Linked DNA regions of Homo sapiens: region 2 is linked to region 1. Evidence: fine-mapped expression QTL. A gene starts in region 1. The other region holds a variant in brackets. All regions are shown on one strand. Distances are from middle to middle. Region 1 holds the start of NDUFA12 (NADH:ubiquinone oxidoreductase subunit A12). Region 2 overlaps LOC124902986 (a long non-coding RNA gene).

Evidence for each region.
Region 2: its variant is fine-mapped to the expression of NDUFA12 in cerebellar hemisphere (GTEx, PIP above 0.99).

Annotation. Positions count from the first base shown.
Region 1 is chr12:95,002,533-95,005,447 of GRCh38, forward strand. It overlaps NDUFA12 (NADH:ubiquinone oxidoreductase subunit A12), which reads right to left and starts at 1,165. Exons shown (of 4, transcript NM_018838.5): 1 at 1,063-1,165; 2 at 207-289. The coding sequence starts at 1,148. RefSeq lists enhancers at 796-1,423, 888-1,287.
Region 2 is chr12:94,102,402-94,105,316 of GRCh38, forward strand. LOC124902986 (a long non-coding RNA gene) reads left to right here. Exons shown (of 2, transcript XR_007063409.1): 1 at 1-1,215. Among named protein-coding and RNA genes, the nearest start is that of PLXNC1, 45 kb to the right of the region's middle. The variant C/A (reference allele first, on the strand shown) is at 1,513.

The DNA of each region.
Region 1 (2,915 bases):
TGTTACAAGTGAGAATGAGCATTTTTCCATACCTTCATTGGCTGTTTACTTTTCTTTTTTCTGTAAATTATCTTTTTTCATTTTCTATTGAGTTTTTCATCCTTTTCCAGGTGTTTTGTAAAAGCTCATTGCATAATATGGAAAATAGACTCAAATCAAATCCCAATCCCAATCCAATTATTCATACTAAAAAATACTGCACTCACCAAAAAATTGCTTGTTGTCTTCATAGTATTTGTTTCCATATTTGTCTTCCCCCACTAATGTACCAACCTTCGCATCATTTGTCCTGTGAATACCCAAAAGAAAACAGACATTTTAGAATGATTCTTAGTTCAAAACATAAACGGAAATAAAGTGAGAGTAACAACTTTCAGACACAAGGGCTGCTGCATCAACTAGCAAAATGAAGAAGTGCTGGGGATGGGAAAAGATGAATTGACAACTGATGTGCTCAAATTACACTAAAAATATAAATGTAGTCTCTTCAGATTACAGGACTACTTGTATCTACTATCCCTCAGCCAGGAGGCACTGGAATTAGCAAAACCTTTAGGAAATCAAAAAGCCAAAGTATTTCATCTTCTTACAATGATACGAAGGTCTCCAGGCTCTTTCATTCCACTCTGGGTCTCCATTTAGGTTTCTGCGAAACTATGCTGCTCGTGGGATCAGTGAATGTCAGGAAGAGAAGGGACCATCATTATTACCTTCAACGCCTTACAGACAAGGAACTGTACGGCAGTGCAGGGAAAAAAACTTTACCAGGGTCACTGAGTTAATGTCTTGTAATCCTCATTACTCTCCAGGGCGTGGGAAAAGAGGGGAGCCCAGATGCCCTTGCCTCCGAGTCACAGCTCTGACTCTACAGATAGCTTCGGTCTTGTATCGGGGATATATGGGACAGAGACCAGCCTGGGGGTGGCAAGGCAGAGATTGGGGCGGTTGTCCTTGACAAGAGCTGTGGATTCTCCAAGGTGACCCGAGCCTGGGACCCCTTCCAAGAAATCAGCCAGCGAAAGTCCAGCCCCAGAGGCCAAGAGCATGGCTCTGGCCGCCTACCTGAAAAAAACCCGTAGATAGCCTCGGAGACCGCCGTGGCCGGTGATCTGCTGCAGCCCGCGTTTCAGGACCTGCACTAACTCCATCTTGCCTCGCTGGCCCCGCCTCCCGGGTGCGCCGAGCAAAACCCACCGGATGGAAGCTGCCACTCAGCCGCAGGAAGCCCACGCCCAGAAGGTTCTCACGCGAACGCCAGACGTGGTGGCTCTGCGCGTGCGCAGAGCTAGGTCTTGCCTACGCGGTCATGTTCTGGCTTCCCAAGTAGGCAGAATTGGTTTCCCCTGGAAGCAAAGGTACCTTAAAATTTAGTTTTCAGAGGTTAAATCTAGAAGGCGGGCATATGCTGGAAAGCTCACCTACACGAGGCTTTCTCACACGGGGATTCCCCCTTTGGGAATTTCAGTTTCCTCATCTAAAAATAATTGGCTCTGGTGGGCGCGGTGGCTCACTGTTGTAATCCCAGCACTTTGGGAGGCCGGGTAGGGAGGATCGTTTGAGCCCAGGAGTTCGAGACCAGCCTCGCCAACACAGCGAGAATTCTGTCTCTACAAAAAAAAAAAAAAAATTAAAAATTAGCTGGATGTGGTGGCGCGTGCCCGTAGTCCCAGCTACTCGGTAGGCTGAGGCTTAGATGGGAGCATCGCTTGAGCCTAAAAAATTTCAATATTACTTCATTTGTTAACCACAATTCTTCTACAAAGAGAAACCTCCCTTCAACTATTTGGCTCCTGAGATACAATTAATGTAGGAAAGGCAGTATGGGTGCTTGATTCTCTTACTTTTTTTTTGTTTTTTAATTTTAGAGACAGGCTCTCTGTCACCCAGGCTGAAATACAGTGGTGTGATCATAGCTCACTGCAGCCTCAAACTCCTGTGCTCAAGCAGTCCTCCCATTTAAGTAAGTGCCACCACCCCTGGCTAATTTTTTTTTTTTTAGAGATGGGCATCTTGTTATGTTGCCCAGGTTGGTTTTGAACTCTGGCCTCAAGTGATCCTCCTGCCTCAGCCTCTCAAAATGCTGGGATTACAGGTGTAAGCCACCACACCCAGCCGATTCTTTCCCTTATGTGTGTTTTCAAAATAACAATTTAGTTCCCTAGCTTTTTTTTTTTTTTTTTGGTAGTGGTGGTTAAAAACACAAAATATAAAATTTACCATTTTAACCATTTTTAAGTGTACAGTAGTGTTAACCACATGCACATTGTTGCGCAACAGATCTCTAGAACTTATTCTTCTTGCAAAACAGAAACTTTATATCCATGGAACAACTTTTTCCTCTTTCTCCATCCCCTGCCAACCACCATTCTACTTCTGTTTCTAAGAGTTTAACTACTTTAGATACTTCATATAAGTAGAATCATGAGGTGTTTGTCTTTTAGGACCTGGCTTATTTCACTTAGCATGATATCCACAAGGCTCATCCATAGTGTAGTATATGACAGGATTTTCTTCTTTTTATAAATGTTGAATAATATTCCACTGTATGTATATGCCACCCAGTTACCTGTCCATAAACATTTCTGCTGATTCCGCCTCTTGGCTATTGTGAATAATGCTGCAGTGAACACGGGTGTGCAGATATCTCTAAGATCCTGTTTTCAGTTCTTTTGGATATATACCCAGAAGTGGATTGCTAGATCATATGGAAATTTTATTTTTTATTTTTATAGGAATCCCCATACTGTTTTCCATGGCAGCATCACCATTTTACATTACTAACAACAATGCACAAAGGTTCCAATTTCTCCACCTCCTCACCAACACTACATATTTTCTGTGTTTGTTTGTATGTTTGTTTGTTTGTTCTGAGACGGAGTCTAACTCTGTTGCCCAGGCTGGCGTGCAGCGGTGCG
Region 2 (2,915 bases), 900 kb before region 1:
TTTATTGAATCTTGAGTGACACCTAGTGGCCCATCCGCCTCACCGTCACGGCGATGCTGGTTTCACTGGGCTTTTCAGAAGGCGTGCTGGCCTGCCCATGGTTCTCGGCTAAAAGACTTTGGAGCGTAGGGTGCCGATGAAGTTTCCTGGGACCTTCCGGAAGCACTTGCTGTCCCGTCAACAGCCCTGTACCTGCGATGCATGCAATTCTAATGAAAATGCCCTTCTCGTCTGGAGGGCTTGCTTGAGCACATCCTGAGCTCTCAGGCAGCAAATATAGAGTCGGGTGCTATTCCGGGAGCTGGGCACACAAAGATGACCAACGCTTGGTTTCTGATCTCAAGAATCTCACAGCCCAGCTGGGGGGAAATGGACCAGTAGAAGAGTGTGTATTTGATGCTGTGGGGTAGAGGGGGTGGACCTAGCTCGGCCTAGAGACATCAAGAAAGTCACCCTTGAGCTGAGTTTTGAAGATTAGGCAGAATTCTAAGATGACCCCTGAAGATTCTCAGCCCATCCCCCTCGCAGTGTACACACACCTTTGCCCAGTTATTCAATCAAACAATTTAGGTGCTTCTGTGAAGAGAATTTGCAGATGTAATTAAAGTTCCCAAATTAATTGATCTTAAGATCTGGAGATGATCCTGGGTAGGCCTAACCTAGCCAGGTGAACCTTTGAAAGGGACTGGATTGTCCTGGCAGAAGAGATTTGACAAGCGGCAAGAACTCATCATTGGCAAGATTTTCTTTGCTGGCTTTACAGATGAAAGGGGCCACGTGGCAAGGAATGCAGGCTGACTCTAGGAGCTCAGAACGACCCCTGCCTGACAGCCAGCAGAGAAACCAGCCTTCAATCCTACCACTGCAAGAGCACTGAACTCTGCCAATAAGCAGGGAGTTTGGAAGGGATCCCCAAGCTGTATGAGACTTAGTCCCAGCTGACACCTTGATTTTATCTCTGTAGGACCCTGAAGAGAGGACCCAGTCATGCTGCATTCAGGCTTCTGACCTCCAGAACTATGAACTAATAAATGGGTGTTTTAAGCTGTTATGTTTGCAATGTGTTATGAAGTCATAGGAAACTGATACAGATGGTCATTTCAAAGAGGGGAACCACATGACAAATGCTCAGAGCCATAAAGAAGCAGAGAACTAAAGTCATTCAGAGAACTAAAGACATTCGGCATAGCTGGACCATGGGGAGCAAAGGAGACGGTAAGATGTACTCACGAGAACTTGGCTTTGGATCAGAGAGAATGTGCCCTTGGGCTAGTTAACTTAGCTCTCTGTGCCTCAGTTTTCCCAAAGGTAAAATGGAATCATAATTATAGTTAAAACATAGAGTTGTTATGTTAGTGGCCCATAGGCATATAGAAAGTTCAACACAGCCTTGGGATATAATAAGTGTTCCAAAAATGTTAGGTAGTAATAGCTTTAGTAATTAATCATGTAGTTAATGGACTGGAATAAGAAGAGGACAAGTCATGTGGTTTTTACAGAGTGGTCTGGGGA[C/A]CATCTGCACTGGATGATTCCAGCGGTGAGCTTATTAAAAACCCACATGCCTGGATTGTACCTTGGTCTTACCAAATCAGACTCTCTGGGGGTAGAGCCTGAGAATCTGCACTTTCAAGAAGCTTCCAAAGTGATCTTTGTGATAACCACCAAGCAAGAAATAAGAAGACTTGTAAGTAGGTCACTGTAGTAGTCCAGGCAGGAGTGGCTGATAAAATCAAGCAAGGCACTGGCAATGAGAACAGGGAGCGGGTGTGGCACTCTTTGAGGCAGATGGAAACTACGGAACTGAGTAATCAGACAGGGGTGGTGGAAAGGAAGGAGGGCAGAGGATGAGCTGGAATCACCGTGGGGAGGTGAGTTCGGGGAGGATTGACTCAGATTGGGTCATGAGAGTCCAGACATCTGTGGGGTATCCAAGTGGAATGTCACATAGACAGTTAGAAAGACTAAAATGTAGGAGGTACATTGGTGCTAAAAATACAACGTTAAGTGTACATGAGTCCATGAAGTAATGGGATGATGCTGGCAGAATAGGAAGATGGTCAGGAACAGAACTTCAAATGTACCAGTTTTGGCCAGGTGCGGTGGCTCACGCCTGTAATCCCAGCACTTTGGGAGGCCCAGGCAGGCAATCATGTGAGGTCAGGAGTTAGAGACAAGCCTGGCAAACATGGTGAAACCCTGTCTCTACTAAATATACAAAAATTAGCTGGGCATGGTGGCACGTGCCTGTAATCCCAGCTACTTGGGAGGCTGAGGCAGGAGAATCACTTGAACCCAGGAAGTGAAGGTTGCGGTGAGCCAAGATCGTGCCACTGCACTCCAGCCTGAGTGACATAGTGAGACTCTGCCTCAGAAAAAAAGTACCAATTGTGGGCGCTGGGGGACCTAAGAGACTGAGAAAGAGCCACCAGAATGGTTGACTGGGTGTTGGGTGGACAGAAGTCCGAGGGGGTGGCCGTCAGCCAGCCTTGGAGCAGTTCAAATGGAAAAAGTCTGTGCACATGCCTGACACCTAGTCACCAGCAGATCAATGGTGGGCTCAGCAGGGCTCCTTTCAGTAGGATGAGGAAGGAGGGAGCCAGACTGCAGCCTGGGAATGTACAGAAGGCAAGGAAGTGGGGATTGTTCTTTAGCAATGTGGCTGTGAAAAAAGGAAAAAAATAGGGCAGGAATTAGAGATTCACACAGCCCTTCCTCTCCCATTGCATTGGTGCAAACCTACACACGTGACTGAAAAACATGGCTGAGCCGGGCAGCCATGTGGTGCCTGCTGAACCCAGATTGTGGCAGAAGTGGAGGGGATAGGTAGGGAGGGTGAGGCTCTCAGAGAAGGAAGGGGAGCCTAGGTGCTGAAGACCAGCGGTGCACCGATGTTTACAAGTGTAGGGCTGGACCAC